Regions from separate parts of the Homo sapiens genome. Here region 2 is linked to region 1. Evidence: fine-mapped expression QTL. Tissue or cell type: whole blood. Region 1 holds a variant in brackets; the other region holds the start of a gene. All regions are shown on one strand. Distances are from middle to middle.

Region 1 (8,105 bases):
TTTTTTTCTTCTGAGTGAAATTATCATAATCAGTACTAAACTGATGCAAATGGCCTAAGTATATCATACATTTTGATAATGAGTAAACCCAAAAGTACATTTTTATTGGAAATAAATATCTTAATAGAATGAGTGAGACTTTTTTTTCCCCCATTAATAATATACTTTCTGGTTCAAATTCTGACCTGCAGACTTAGGGCATTTGTTTTTTTTTTTTTTTAAAAAGTCCACCCTAAAACCTAAAATCTAATTATCAAAGCCAGTCCTCATGATCAAACTAATAAGTCAAATTGTACTAAGTGTCTCTCAAGAAAAGTCTGACTCCAAGTTTCACTTCAAAAAAAGTAAAGATGAGGCTGAAATCAGAGGATTGCTCAAGGCCAGGAGTTCATGATCAGCCTAGGCAGCATGTCAAGCTATCTCTTTAAAAAAAATTTTTTTTTTAATTAGCCAGGCATAGTGGCATGCACCTGTAGTCCCAGCTACTCAGGAGGCTGAGGCAGGAGGATCACTTGAACCCAGGAATTCAAAGCAGCAGTGAGCTATGATCTCACCACTGCACTCCAGGCTGGACAACAGCAAGACCCCATCTCTTAAACAAAACAAACAAACAATAACAACAAAATTACATCATGAAAACCACTGAGAAATTATGGGTTTACACCATAATATCACCAACGCCAGGTGCATTGGCTCACGCCTGTAATCCCAGCACTTTGGGAGGCCGAGGAGGACGGATCACTTGAGGCCAGGAGTTCGAGACCAACCTGGCCAACATGGTGAAACCCTGTTTTTACTAAAAATACAAAAATTAGCCATATGTGGTAGCACACACCTGTAATCCCAGCTACTTGGGAGACTGAGGCATGATAATTGCTTGAACCTGGGAGGCAGAGGTTGCAGTGAGCCAAGATTACACCACTGCACTCCAGCCTGGGCAACAGAGCACGACTCTGTCTTAAAAAAAAAAAAATTTATGGAATTACAAAAAGCAGTCAATATTATTTAAACCCAGTGTGATTGTTTTGTGCATTCACACCCTTAAAATCAAGACAATAAATCAGTTTCTCATTACTTATTCTGTTTTCATTACTTAATTTACAATAATGCAATGTAATATACAACTAAAATTCTAAGCTTTTATGAAGTAAGGAGCATAATAAACAATACTACATGCCTTCCATTAACATGTGGACATACATAAAACCTGTTCAACTTTTGGAAATAATTAAATACAACCAAGTATAAAAATCAGGGATATAAAAAAGGATAAAATAATATTTTTTGGAGCAACCTGGATGGAACTAGAGACCATTATCCTAAGTGACAGAACTCAGGAACAGAAAACCAAATACTGCATGTTCTCACTCATCAGTGGGAGCTAAGCTATGGGTATACAGAGGCATGTGGAGTGGTATAATGAACATTGGAGATTCAGAAGTGGGGTGAAGGATGAAAAAAATCACCTATTGGGTACAATGTACACTATTCAGGTGACAAGTACACTAAAAGCCTAGACTTCATTACTATACAATTCATCCACATAACCAAAAGCCACTTGTACCCCTAAAGCTACTAAAATAAATAAAAGTACATTAAAAAATGCACCCCTATTAATCAATAAATCAAACAATAAAATCAGGCATAACTCCATTAATTTCATTAGATATGATGACCATCCTTTTTCTGGGTGTTTAACAAAAGAGAATGGTATATGCTGCTAAAAATGAATAGCCAGGGTTTACTTTAAATATGAAGTAGAAAACATTAAACAATTGGACTTAGACTTATGACAGCTAAACAGCTTTACCCACTTTATCGAATCATAATGTACATGAATATGAAAAAATAAAGTTAGCCAGTGTAACTTAAAATTTTTGGCAGCCCCAGAAAACACTCCATTCATGTTTAAAAGATACAGCTTTACTAACCCATATCATTTGGCTGTTTAAAGGTGTTTTTCTTTACAGCAAATGATACATCCTAACGAAGAGTATTAAGATTAGTCAAAATCATTGTTTACATTTAAACACATAGGACATAGTTTTAGCAATCAAAATTCTCTGTGTTCTCTTTGCTCTACTCTCACAGGGACTCTCTCTTAAAAGCAATTACTTGTTGTCAATAGCTAGGGGGAAAAAGAACAGGTCATTAAAAGGAAACTATCGTTATTCCTACCTATGTCATTACTCCCTACTACATATCTAAATTCAGAATATCCTACCACAGGACAAAATATACTGTTCCTAATATGATTTACCCTTAACAGAAATTTGTGCAAAAATGGAAAGGAAGGAACTCCCAATACAGTTCCTTGATTAATAATTAAAGGAGACTTCTCCTTTATTTGGCACCCTGGAAGCTTTTACACCTCAAGACAATGCACCATGGTAGTACTGAGTATCAGTGAAGGGTATGATTTTCATTTATAAAGTAAACGTGGTAGCCTTCAAAACAGCCTCCAAAGATCCCCACCTCATGGTATTCATACCCTTGTGTGGTCCCCTCCCACAATGCACCTGAGTTCATCTATGTGATGAATAGGATAAAGCAGAAGTAATGGTATGTCACTTCTGAGATTGTGTTATAAAAGGAATGATGGCTTCCACTTTGGTTTCTCTCCTGGATGACTCACTCTGGGGGAAGCCAGCTGCCATGTCATGAGGACTTTCAGGCAGCCTAGTAGACACTCCATGTGGCAAGGAACTGAGGCCTTCTACCAGCAGCCATCATAGAGGCAAATCCTCCAGCCCCTGTTAAGCCTTCAGATGACAGCAGTCCTCATGACATCTTGACTAGAATCTCATAAGAGACCTGTAGCCAGAACCAGCCAGCTAAGCGACTCCCTGACTGCTGACACTGTGGAATAATAATGTTTGTTGTTTTAAGGCAGTGTGTTATACAGCAATTGATAACTAATATGGTCACTATCTTAGGTAGCTGTCCTAGGAACAGAATCTGAGATCAATGATAAACTAAAGAAATGTTGAAGAAGGAAACTGTTCAAGAAGTGAAGAAAGTGAAAGGAACAAGAGGAAGCCAACCAAGGGTACCATCTAAGGCAAAAAATTGTGTGCCTGATTCCACACTGCAACTTCAGAGCATAAG[T/A]TATACCTCAGTGTTGTCCTAATCTAGGCAAGGAAGCTAGGCTTTCAAACACCATATCTACACACCATAACTTATTAATCTCAACACTGGTAATCTGATGTGGGGTAGCTTCTAGCTGAAAAGGGACCCAAGGGAATCTGAGCAGAGCACCAACAGTAAGAGAAGAACTATTCTGAAGACAGGTTGGGCTTCCCAAACAGATCATTTTTAGAAAGAAAGCCTGGACCTAAAATTTATTTCCCTAAAGTTTCTAGCCCAGGGCCCCTTGGAAAGCCTTCACATACCCTTAAAAACTCCTAGGGCAGCAATTCGCACACTATATTTGGTATTCATCAGATAATTAGGAAATTAACTCATTCAATATTCAGTATTCTAAGAAAAAAAATGATCCCTATACTCAAAGTTTAGGATACAGCCAGCTAAGTAAAGTCAGAGAAGCTCTTAGGACTTCTCAAAGTCTGAAAAATGATAAGCTATGATAAGCTATATTGTGAATATTGTGTGCAGCATTTTCCAAAGAGAATCCCTTTTTTTGACATTATACCTATTTTCCTTTCATGGAATACTCATATTTGATCAAATAGAGTAGGATACCTTAGGATTTCGGACAAAGAGCTTTTTTGGCTAAAGTAGACTTACAGTCAACAGTCCTTGAAAGCATACATATTAATGTAACCCTTTTATAATAACCCCTTTAACATTTACTGCCTGATATTTTATACCAGGTCCTATACCAAGCACTTTTATTATTTATATTGACTATAATATCCAACATAGCCTTAGAAATTGTTAACCATATTTTGCAAATGAGGAACTCAAATAAGGGAAGTAATTTTCCCAATGCTATAATGCTGGGAAATGGCAGAACTGGAATAACAAGTAGAAGGAAGAAGAGTTGTAACAATAATAAGAAATTAGTGGCCGGCCACGGTGGCTCATGCCTGTAATCCCAGCACTTTGGGAGGCTGAGGTGGGCAGATCACCTGAGGTCAGGAGTTCGAGACCAGGCTAGCCAACATGGAGAAACCCCGTCTCTACTAAAAATACAAAAATTAGTCAGGCGTGGTGGCAGGCGCCTGTAATCCCAGCTACTTGGGAGGCTAAGGTAGTAGAATCGCTTGAACCCAGGAGGCGCAGGTTGTAGTGAGCCAAGATGGCACCACTGCATTCCAGCCTAGGCAACAGAGCAAGACTCTGTCTCAAAAAAAAAGAAAGAAATTAGCTTTACCAAATAATTTTTGGTTATATATACCAGCCAGAAGTTATTGTGCTAATGAAAGTTTATTAAATTTACAGCATAAAACAGTAAGACTATACTGTAAACTCTACCTCTACCAAAAATACAAAAATTAGCCAAGCATGGTGGCATGAGCCTGTAGTCCCAGGTACTTGGGAGGCTCAAGTGGGAGAATCGCTTGAGCCCAAAGAGGTCAAGGCTGCAGTGAGCTGTGATCACGCCACTGCACTCCATCTTGGGTGACAGAGCAAGACCCTATCTCAAAAAAAAAAAAAAAGAAAGAAAGAAAACAATAGCACAAAGAAAAGGGTATTAATCTAACTGAATTGTTTTAAAGTAAGATGTTAATTGCAATCCTCAGGGCTAATACTAAGAAAATAGGCTGGGCTAGGTGGCTCACACCTGTAACCCCAGCACTTTGGGAGGCCGAGACGGGTGGATCACCTAAAGTCAGGAGTTCGAGATCAGCCTGGCCAACAAGGTGAAACCCCATTTCTACTAAAAAAATACAAAAAATTAGCTGGCCATGGTGGCGGGTGCCTGTAAACCCAGCTACTTGGGAGGCTGAGGCAGGAGAATCACTTGAACCCAGGAGGCGGAGGTTGCAGTGATCTGAGATCATGCCATTGCACTCCATCCTGGGCAACAAGAGCAAAACTCCAGCACAAAAAAAAAAAAAAAAGGAAATGACAAAGGAAATGAAATGGTACATAAGAAAATATCTATTTAATGCACAAGACAGTACTAATGGAGGAATAGAGGAACAAAAAAGATATAAGACATGTTAAAACAAATGGCAAACATCAGAGCAGACATAAATCCTACCTTACCAGTAATTACATTAAATGTAAATGAACTAAACACTCCAATTGAAAGGCAGAGATCAGCAGACTGGATTTAAAAAAACAGACTGAACTATGTGTTACCTACTGGAGACATACTTTAGATTCAAAGATACAAAGAGACTGAAAGTAAAAGGATGGGGAAAAACATGCTATGCCAATAGTGCTCAGAAGAAAGCTGGAGTGGCTATACTAATTAAAGCCAAACAGACCTTAAGACAAAAAATATTATGAAGAAAGATATTTTATGATTTTTTTAAAAAAGGTCAATCCATCAGGAAGACATAACAATTATAAACATATATTCACCTGCCAACAAGGCCCTAAAAATACATGAATAAAAAACTGGCAAAACTGAAAGAAAAAATGGACAATTCAACAGTTATAGTTGAAGACTCCAATACTTCTACTTTCAATAACAGAATAGGCAGAAGACCAACAAGGAAGTAAAAGACGTGAACAACCCTATAAACCAACTACATCTAACAAATATCTATAGAACACACCACCTAATAACAGCCAGATACACATTTTTGATGTTTTGGGGGTGGTTGGAGGGGTGGGTAATGGGTATTTCTGGAATTAGGTAGTGGTAATGGTTGCACATCCTTGTGAATATGCTAAAACCACCGAATTGTATACTCTAAAAGGGTAAGTTTTTTCGTATGTGAACTAGATCTCAATAAAGCAGTTATTTTTAAAAAGGAACATTAAATCAAAAATAAGAGCAATGTAGTATGGAATACACATGTAAAAGTAACTTATAAGAACTGTGATGTAACAACAGCACAAAGGCAATAGGGAGAAATGGAAGTATACTATTACAAGGTTCTTAAAATATACATGAAATGGTATATCACTTGAAATTACACTATGATAAGTAAACAAAAAATGTAAGTGCCTTACACAGAGTGGATATTTCACAAAGAATTATGTGAAGATTTACAGCATATGATCAATTTTTAGGGCCTAAAATACATACATGCCTTTTAAATAATATAAAGCTATATATACATAAATATAAAACATACTTACCAAAACAGAATAAATGTGCAAACATCGATAAACAGGGGAAAAATCAACAAGATCCTGAACAGTTAAGATCTGAAAATTAAACCATTTTTAAAAAAATTATAGGTCAAACTATTAGACCACCATTAGATAATGTAAAGTTAAAGATAGGCAAGAAGATTCATGAACTTTGTGTTACAACATTTATTCAATTCCCCCATAGAAAGCATACACTATAAACGCAAAACCTTCTTTATTTTGTTTTGGCATTTCTTCAGCAGTTTATTCTTTGTAGTATGTTTATTATCACTGTGGACTGTTTTCAACTTAAGGTAACCAAGGAGAGAAATTGTATATTTTTAATATGTATGATAGATTACAGAAAACTGCTATGGATAACTAGATACCTTATTATTGTTTTGGGTAAAAATGATACACAGATTTCATGATTTGGCTATAGACAAAGTTCCTGTTCTTACGCAGCTATGTCATATGATTGGTCATTATTGCACTGAATTAAAGACACTATCAGTATTATTTTACAGACTGCTAAGAAAGAAAAAACACCACCACTTAAAACTATAACACCATCATCTTTAAGATGTATCCTATATTCTGAAATGTTATGTGGAAAAAAAAATGCCTTACAATTGATGAAATGTAGTACTATAAAGTTTCTCAAACTTGAGAAATACATAAACCCTTTTTAAAGGAACACATTTGTACTCATGTGAATCTCCAGAGTGAACTTAAATTATTTTTACTATAACATTGCTTATTAGGGAAAATGATAAAAACAAAATGTAGTGCAGTATAGTAGTAAAATAGATCTGAGAGAACAGGGAAACCACCAAGCTCCTCTAAATGTAAAGGTCTGGGGGTAAGGCATGATGGTGATGCTCCCAGCAGGAAAGATATACAGAACAGGAAGGGGAAAATTGAAGTAAGAAGACTAGATGGTCTATTTTCAACATTCTGAACCTCAAAGGAGAAAATAATACAGAGGTCCTCTGAATATTTAGAAAGAACAAAAAAGCAGAGGTCAAAAATATTTATTTAATTTAAAGGGACAAAAAACCTAATAATAATTTCAAGGGACTAATCAGGACATACTAATTCCACATTAGGAAGGCATTTAACTGTTTGAAGCTGTTCATTTGTCTGTATTCAGTACAATAGCAGACATTCACTACATACGCATATATATACATATATACACATATATACACACATACACATATGTGCATACATATTCACACAAATATATTACATATATACTACATATATATTTGTGTGACTATGTACATATGTATCACCTCATCCTCAGATATACAGCAGAAATGTACATAGTGGCTGGGTGTGGTGGCTCACGCCTACAATCCCAGCACTTTAGGAGGCCAAAGCAGAAGGACCACTTGAAGCCAGGAGTTCAAGACCAGCCTGGACAACACGGCAGTTCCCCATCTCTACAAAAAATATAAAAAAATTAGCTGGATATAGTATATACAGGCATGTGCCTGTAGTTCCAACTACTTGGGAGGCTGAAGCAGGAGGAGCATTTGAACATAAGAGTTTGAGGTTACAGTAAGCCATGATTATGCCAACTGCTCTCCAGCCTGGGTGACAGAGTAAGACCCTGTCTCAAAAAAAAAAAAAAAGAAATGCACATAGTAAACACTCAGCTGTTCACCCATTCACAAATGCAGTCATGAGCACATAGTCGTATGGTTCAACTAAAAATTCTTACTGCATCCCAATTATGTCCTTAGAAAAAGAATTTAAAATCTCATTGGCAAGGCAAAACTTATAAATTAATTGGGAATAACAAGGTTCCTATGATAGTAGCTAAATTTAAAAAAAAATTGAAAAGGACGATAAAAGGTAAGTTCAATAGAAGATTCTGTGGA
Region 2 (8,089 bases), 73 kb after region 1:
GATCACACAGTGTGCAAATAAAGACGGTTTTCCAAACTAGATGCTTTTTTTTTAAATGGTCTTATTATACCGGCCTTATATTCAACATTCTAGTACAGTGTTGAATAGAAGTGGTGAGAATGAATATCCTTACCTCATTCCTGATTTTAGAGGAAAAGCATTCAGACTCTTACCACTAAGCACAATTTAGCTCTAGATTTTCATAGATGCCCTGTTTTAAGCTGAGGAATTTCCATTACTAGTTTCTGAGGGTTTTTAAAATCAGGAATTAATATTCGATTTTGTCAATGCTTTCTCCACATATATGATCATACAACTTTTCTTTGTTTAATATGGTGAACAATGTTACATTGATTTTTCAAATGTTAAGCCAGCATCTTTCTTGAAATAAACCTCACTTGATCATGATGTATTCTTCACATATATATACACACACATATATACATATACAGAATATACTTTTTATATAGATGTATTTTATACTTTTAAATCCACATATATGGATTTAATTCTCTAAAATTTTTTGTAAAATCTGTGTGTATGAGGAATACTGATTTAGTTTCCTTTTCTAGTTATGTCTTTCTTTCTTTAGTTCTGGTATCAGGTTAATGTTGACCTCAAAATGAGCTGGGAAATATTCCCTCCTCTTCAATTTTCCAGAAAAGTCTTTGTAGAATTGGCATTAATTCTTCCTTAAAGATGTAGAATCCACCAGTAAAACTATCTGGGCCTAGAGTTTCCTTTTGGGGAAGGCTTATAACAGCAAAATTCCCTTTCTTTAATTGATACAGGGCTATTCAGCTATTTCTTCTTAAGTGAACTTTGATAATACTTTGTATCTTTCAACTAATTTGTCCATTTCTGCTAAGTTGCCAAATGTATGAGCATGAAGTTGTTCATAATATATATACATTTTTTGAGATGGGGGTCTCACTCTGTTGCCTAGGCTGGAGTGCAGTGGCACAATCTCAGCTCTCTACAGCCTTAACGACCCAGACTCTGAGCCATTCTCCCACGTTAGCCTCCCGAGTAGCTGGGACCACAGGCACACACCACCACACTTAGCTAATTTTTGTATTTGTAGAGACAAGGTCTCATTATGTTACCCAGGCTGGTCTTGTATGCCTGAGCTCAAGCAATCCTCCTGCTTCAGCCTCCCAAAGTGCTGGGATTACAGGCATGAGCCACTGCACTCAGCCTATTCATAATATTTCTTAACCTTTTTTTAATGTCTGTAGAATCTATAGTCACGTAACCTCTCTCACTCCCGTTTTTTTGTTTGTTTGGTTAGTTGGTTGGTTTTGTTTTTTTTTTGTTTGTTTTTGTTTTTGTTTTTTTAAGATGGAGTCTCGCTCCGTCGCTCAGGCTAGAGAGTAGTGGCATAATCTCGGCTCACTGCAACCTCCGCCTCCCGGATTCAAGCGATTCTCCTGCCTCAGCCTCTCGAGCAGCTGGGATTACAAGCGTGTGCTACCACACCCAGCTAATATTTTTTTGTATTTTTAGTAGGGACGGGGTTTCACCATGTTGGCCAGGCTGGTCTCAAACTCCTGACCTCAAGTGATCTGCCTGCCTCGGCCTCCCAAAGTGCTAGGATTACAGGCGTGAGCCACCGCGCCTGGCCCTGTTATTTTTAATTTGTATCGTCTCCTTTTCTACCCCTAAAGGTTTATCAATTTTACAGTCTCCTCAAAGAACCAGTTTTGAGTTTCACTGACTTTCTGTATTTCTGTCTCACTGAATACCACTCTGATCTTTACCATCTCCTTTCTTCCACTCTTCTGAATTTCATTTGCTCCTCTTTTCCTAGTTTCTTAGGCTAGGAGCTGAAGCCATTCTTTTCTAGTAGAGGTGTTTGGTGCCATAAACTTCTAACTATTTCTTTAGCTGCATTCACAAATGATATGCTGTGTTTTCATTTTACTCAGTTTAAAATACTTTCTAATTTCTCTTTTGATTTATTTTTTGTGTGTTAGTCAATGACCAAATATTTGGGAATTTTCCAGATAGTTTTTGTTTTTTTGTTTTTTTTAACTACTGATTTCTAATATACTTCTGTTGTGGTCAAAGAACCATGTTATATGTCAGGGCCTGCGGAAAGTTTATCACGTGCTTCTCAGGAAAAGATCAGGCTGAAAAATCCCGCCGCTGAGAAAAAACAATATAAATAAAATGATAAGTCTACAGGCCAGCTAAAAGATAATTAGGAAATAACAACAAAAATTAATCTTAATACTAAAATATTTATGAATAAATTGATGTCTTGGATTTCCTTCAAAATAATCCAAGATGATAGGGAGTAGATAAGGGAAGAGATCAAACAAGACTGGCCAGGGAATGAATTGAAGCTAGATGACAGTTCATGGTGGTTCATTACACTATTTTACTTTTTTAAACATTTAAAATTTTTCCATAATAAATGGTTTTTAAAAATGCAATATTAACACTTCACTTCGTGAAACCTGAAAAAAAAGGGAAAAAATAGTAGTAGCTTAAACAATGTTCAAGAGAAAAGACTGCTAGCAGTACCCTCTATATGTGTGCAAAAAGCGTCTGCTTATAAATGAGACACAAATATACATATATATGGGATAAGTATGAGTCACCAGGGATTGCTAAAGAAAAGAGAGTGGGTTCAAACAAAATGAGCCAGTTGAAACAACTGCCCAGCAAAAAAGAACAGAATAACACTATGAATACACATATTCTGTTCCTGAGTGTCCCAAAAATCTCTCAATATATTTCAAATTTTTCTTCTAAGTTAATTTCATCTTTTTTCAAGGACACTACCTAGCACATTTTCCTAAGATGAAGCACCTCCTTCATAACCAGTACTATTTTCACAAATAAACTACTCTAGTAACTTTATCACACACTGCACTCTCAGTTTCAAGATGCAGTGATGAAAACAAAGCTTCCTTTTAATCTTACTTCTTTCATTACCAAGTATACAGTTTATTAAAAGAAATAATAATGTTGGAAAATTAAGGAAATGCACTAATTATGCATTATCATATCATAGCAGAAACCTTATGTGACAAAAATTTATAACATGCCTACCACATGCTTGGTGTTAGGGATACAGTAGTGAACAAATAGGCAAGGTCCCTAATGTTCTGAGTTTCCTGGGCATCTGAATACTCTCCCCTCCCCATTCTACAAATAAGGAAACCGAGATCCAGAGAGGTTAAATAATTTTTTTCCATGACTGCACATTTCATCAGAGGCAGAATTAGGGCAAAACAAGAACCCAGGCCTCCTGACTCTTAAGGGCAAGGTGTATTTACATAACTTGAACTGGCTTCAATTTACACTATATTCACAGGTCCACAAACTGTACAGCGCTCTATTCTAGGAAGTGTATTCTGAAGAATACTAATGATAAAGCATAATCAGTCTCAAGTTCCCTAAGTGAATAATAACTTCATTTATCATTATTATCACTCCAAAAGATGAAACCTTATATGTAAAAGGAACTTATTCTTGAAGACAGTGCCTAACCTAACCCATGGCTCATTACGTTGCCTGGCTAATAATATTCTATTGGAACAGCAGGTACTCAGTTTGGCATGGAATATGCATTACCTAGTACTATTCTTAAAATGAATGGGGAGGAACTCGATTTAAACGGAAAAATTAATGCAATTTTAATGAAATGTTTGTAAATAAGTAAAAGCTGTTCTGCCTCCAAAGCAGCTTAGATCCCGCGAGCGCAGGGTCACCCTAGCGTGTTCCCAAGCAGCAAGCAGCTGCTCTCCTCCAGCCCACGCTCTCTTCTCCAGCCCACGCTCTCTTCTCGCCCACTGCGGCCGCGCGGGGGAGTAGGGGGAAAGCGGGCCGGCGTCTCCCGCTCAATTTCAATTCTCCCACGCCCGCGGCAGCCCGGCGCGCCAGGCTTTCCACCCGCGCGCGACCTGGCACCTCCGTCACGCCGGGTGCCTGCTGTCGACCCTAGCCTGGCATGCCCGCGGCCGAGCAGCCCTCAGCCCCACCACGAGCGAGACGGGGGCAGGCCCCAGAAGTGTCCTCGGGCCCGGGGGCCGCAGCCAGGAGGAGAACGCGGGGCCGCAGCGCGGGGCCCGGGGTTAGAGACCCTGCAGCAGCCACACCCACCGGCTGCGGGGTGACAGCTACAGCGGTGGAGGCAGGCCGCGCCGACAGGTGCAGCCGCCTTCTCGGTCCCGCCCGGGTACCGGCTAGAGTTCCGCCACCCGCGAGCGCCCCCGCCCGCCCCCGCGCGCACCACCTGTCGGGGAGCTTCGCGCGCGGCCGGCGGCGGACGCCCCGCCCGGCTCGTGAGGAGCGGCCGGCGTGGGGCGGGGGGCCGAAGTCCCGGTGGGATGAGATCTTTACCGGAGGGTGGGCCCCACACAGGCGGTGTCGGTGCTCTCGATCTCCTGCAAGATCCGCTCGTGCTCGGGGACGGTGCCCAGACTCTCGCTGTTCTCCGCCATTTTGGCTGGAAGCTGAGGAGCCAGCGAGGCGCGGCGCCGCGGGAACGACGGGGGCGAGCTCCAAGTGGCGCGAGCGCGAAGGGGCGGGGCGGGGGCGGGGCGCTCGGGCCGGCGGCGCGGGGGCGCGCGGAACGCCGGGCAGAAGGCGCGCGACCCGGTTCCCGCCCCCGCACCTGCAGGAGTGAGCGGGGGCTGTGAGCTGGGGCTACGGGCGGCGGCCGGGTACCCAGCTGGCCTCCTGCCCTCTCTCGCGACTAGTCCCTCCTGGGCGTCTTGTGCCTGGCCTTTGGGCTTTAACATATCTCCTTGTCTTCTGTGTGTGCCACACCCTGTGCCACACGCGGGGGTACCGTAGTAATCAGCAAGGTGGACACTCAGATCATCACCCTGAATCTGTAATAAGAGCCACGGGGACATTTAACAAGGGCCTGATGTACTCTGGGTCGTGGGGAGTCAGAGAAAGGAAAACATGCACTCACGAAAAGCAAAATTGCATGTGATAGTAAGATTTATTTTAGGAACGAATAAAGATCCCAGTTGACCATGAAGACCGCTCCAGGTGGATTCATGTCCCCGCCTGCAAGAAGTCCACAGCGGCCAGTCAACTTGGAAATAAATTATAAGCGACATAAAAAATTAAATGATGAGAAGTTAAGACACTTGATGGCAGAGATACCAAAAAAAAAAAAAAAAAAAAAGGCCCAGGGCGATGTGTAATTCATACCAAAGTCCGTGAACTCAGGTGCCCCCAGGTCAGAGTAGCTGGGTTGAGAAGGGGTGAGAGCTCTTGAAAGGGGGTTAGCAGCAGGGAGGTGGGAGAGAGAGGCAGGGAGGCTTGGACAAAGGTATCAGTGTAGAAAAAAGTCGTGCTTAATGACATGTTTGTGGGACACTGAGTAAACCAGTTTGTCATGATCAAAGCAGGGAGGAAGGAAGACTAAACAGGAACAGAATGGAAACCTAGCCTGAGGAACAACTACTTTCTGCTCTACATTAATCCAGGGCTTTGAAAAGCTTCCCTTTGAGTCAACCAAGCTCTTTATCCAGCTGTGTAACTCACTCACCCTTAGTGAGCTTTTACTTGAAACCTACCTCCAGCCTCCTCCCCACAAACATCCTGGGAGGTGGTATTGTGCAATAGTTAGAGCATGAGCTCTGAAGACCAGTGTCCGAAGACATTAATTCTTGGATTAATATCACTTGACAGCTGTGTGACATTGGGCAAGAACCTAGTTCTTTTATATGTCAGTTAAATGACTGTAAATGACAATGGCAGTGTCTGCCTCATATTGCTGTCCCATGGTGTATGAGTTTTCCATTGTTGCTTTAACAAATCACCACAAATTGAGTAGCTTAAAATGACTCAGACATATTATCTTACAGTTCTGTACGTTAGAAGTCTGTCACAGGTCTCACTGGGCTAAAAATCAAGGTGTCAGCATGTCTGTGTTCCTTGCTAGAGACTCTGCGGGAGAATTTGTTTCTTTGCCTTTTCCAGCTTCTAGAGGCCACCCACATACCTTGGCTTGTGGCCCCCTTCCTCCATCTTCAAAGCTAGCAGCATTACATCTCTCTGACCATTCTTCTGTGGTCACATCTTCCTCTGACTCTGACTTAGGCTGGAAAAGATGCTCAGTTTTTAAGGACCCATATGATTAGAGTGGACCCAACCATTTAATCCAGGATAATCTTCCATCTCAGGGTCCTTAACCTTAATCACATATGCAATACCCCCTTTGTCATGTAAAAATAACATATGCACAGGTTCCAGGGATTAGAATGTGAGCATCAGTGGGACCCACTGCCTACCAAACTTAGGAAGGGCCCTATAAAACATTGCTAATGCCCTCCTTCCTATTAATCTGGAATCTTCAGAGCAATGGATTCCAGCTATACACATCCATTGAGCTAAGACAGTCTTCCATTTCCTGCAGAGAGACCTAGCTTTTCATTCTTTTTGTGGGAGGGGATAAAATTTGTCTTCTTTTTTTTATGTTTCAGTTTCAATTTTCAAAAGGTTATTTTCCCCTCTCAAGAACTTCTTAGGTCGAGCACAGTGGCTCACACCTATAATCCCAGAGCTTTGGGAGGCTGAGGCAGGAGGATTGCTTGAGCCCAGGAGTTCGAGGCTGCGGTGAACTATGATAATGAGCAAAATGAGGAGAGCAGGGCATGTGGCACAGGCCAGTTTCCTATTTGACCAATGTCTCCAGCTGGGGAATTACTTTCCTGATCATTCCTTCCCTAGAACTCTACCCCTTTTCTTCACCAGTCCTGATACCTTTTATTCCAAAGCTGGCTCCAAGTGCCCCTGCTCTGGGAAACCAGCCCTGCTTAGGCACTCCTCAGGCCAGCCCTGTTTCAACACCTGCCCATAGAGATTACTTCAACATAAGCAGCAGTATCTTCCCCGAAATTCAAGTGAACATGGAAGGAAGTCCATTTACCACTTCTCCTTCTGAAACAGTTTTTGCTGGTTCCCTCTGAGACTTCTGACAGTTCCGTGAGTACCTGGAGGTTTTAGCTAAGAATTCAAAGCTAAATGTCCTAAATAACTAATTGCACATTTGTTTTGTTTGTTTGGTTGGTTTTTTCGAGACAGAGTTTCGCTTTTGTTACCCAGGCTGGGTAACAATGGCGTGATCTTGGCTCACTGCAACCTCCGCCTCCTGGGTTCAAGTGATTCTCCTGCCTCAGCCTCCGGAGTAGCTGGGATTACAGGCACGTGCCACCACGCCCAGCTAATTTTGTATTTTTAGTAGAGACTGGGTTTCTCCATGTTGGTCAGGCTGGTCTCAAACTCCCGACCTCAGGTGATCTGCCCGCCTCGGCCTCCTAAAGTGTTGGGATTACAGGCGTGAGCCACCGTCCCCGGCCCTAACTGTACATTTTAATCATGGACATAGATATATCAAATATGTCAATGTGGGGTGGGGGAAGCCTATCCAAGGGATAAATGATTTTTTTTTTTTTTTTTTTTTGAGATGGAGTCTCTCTCTGTTGCCCAGGCTGGAGTGCAGTGGTGCGATCTTGGCTCACTGCAACCTCTGCCTCCCGCTTTCAAGCGATTCTCCTGCCTCAGTCTCCTGAGTAGCTGGGATTACAGGTACATGTCACCACATCCAGCTAATTTTTGTATTTATAGTAGAGATGGGCTTTCACCATGTTGGCCAGGCTGGTCTCACACTCCTTCCCTAAAGTGATTGCCCTGACTTGGCCTTCTGAAGTGCTGGGATTACAGGCATGAGCCACCACGCCCAGCCCCAAGGAGTGAATGATTTAACGTCTGCACTGAGAAGGTTGCGGAGTAGCAGGGCACAGACAGGCAGATTGCAGATGCATGTGGAATTATTTTTTGGCAGTGGATATTGACTTCCAGAGATCAATCCAAAATCTCTTTTCAGGACTCCTGGAAGAAGAAAGATACACCAGGAAGACCAGCAGGACAGGAGATGCATTTTGTGTCCAGTATAAAAGTAATTGGCAAAGTAAGGATTTGACTTGTAAATAAACTCTTAGTCATTAGGAACTTAACTTTGCGCCTTTTATCTACAGACTAATGACCTGTCTTGGGAAAGCGCCTCCCTCAGAATGAGGTTGTAGAGTGCAACTGCTCTGGTCTGGCATTTAACTAC

The links. PIP is the estimated chance that this variant, and not a neighbour inherited with it, causes the effect.
Region 2: EXOC6 starts here. The variant in region 1 is fine-mapped to the expression of EXOC6 in whole blood (TOPMed, PIP 0.96). The same link has a PIP of 0.9 or more in monocytes.

What each region holds. Positions count from the first base shown.
Region 1 is chr10:92,918,168-92,926,272 of GRCh38, reverse strand. EXOC6 (exocyst complex component 6) reads right to left here. Exons shown (of 22, transcript NM_019053.6): 8 at 6,223-6,291. Among named protein-coding and RNA genes, the nearest start is that of EXOC6, 74 kb to the right of the region's middle. The variant T/A (reference allele first, on the strand shown) is at 3,109.
Region 2 is chr10:92,844,899-92,852,987 of GRCh38, reverse strand. EXOC6 (exocyst complex component 6) reads right to left here and starts at 4,468. Exons shown (of 22, transcript NM_019053.6): 1 at 4,354-4,468. The coding sequence starts at 4,454. RefSeq lists silencers at 4,022-4,361, 4,502-4,651.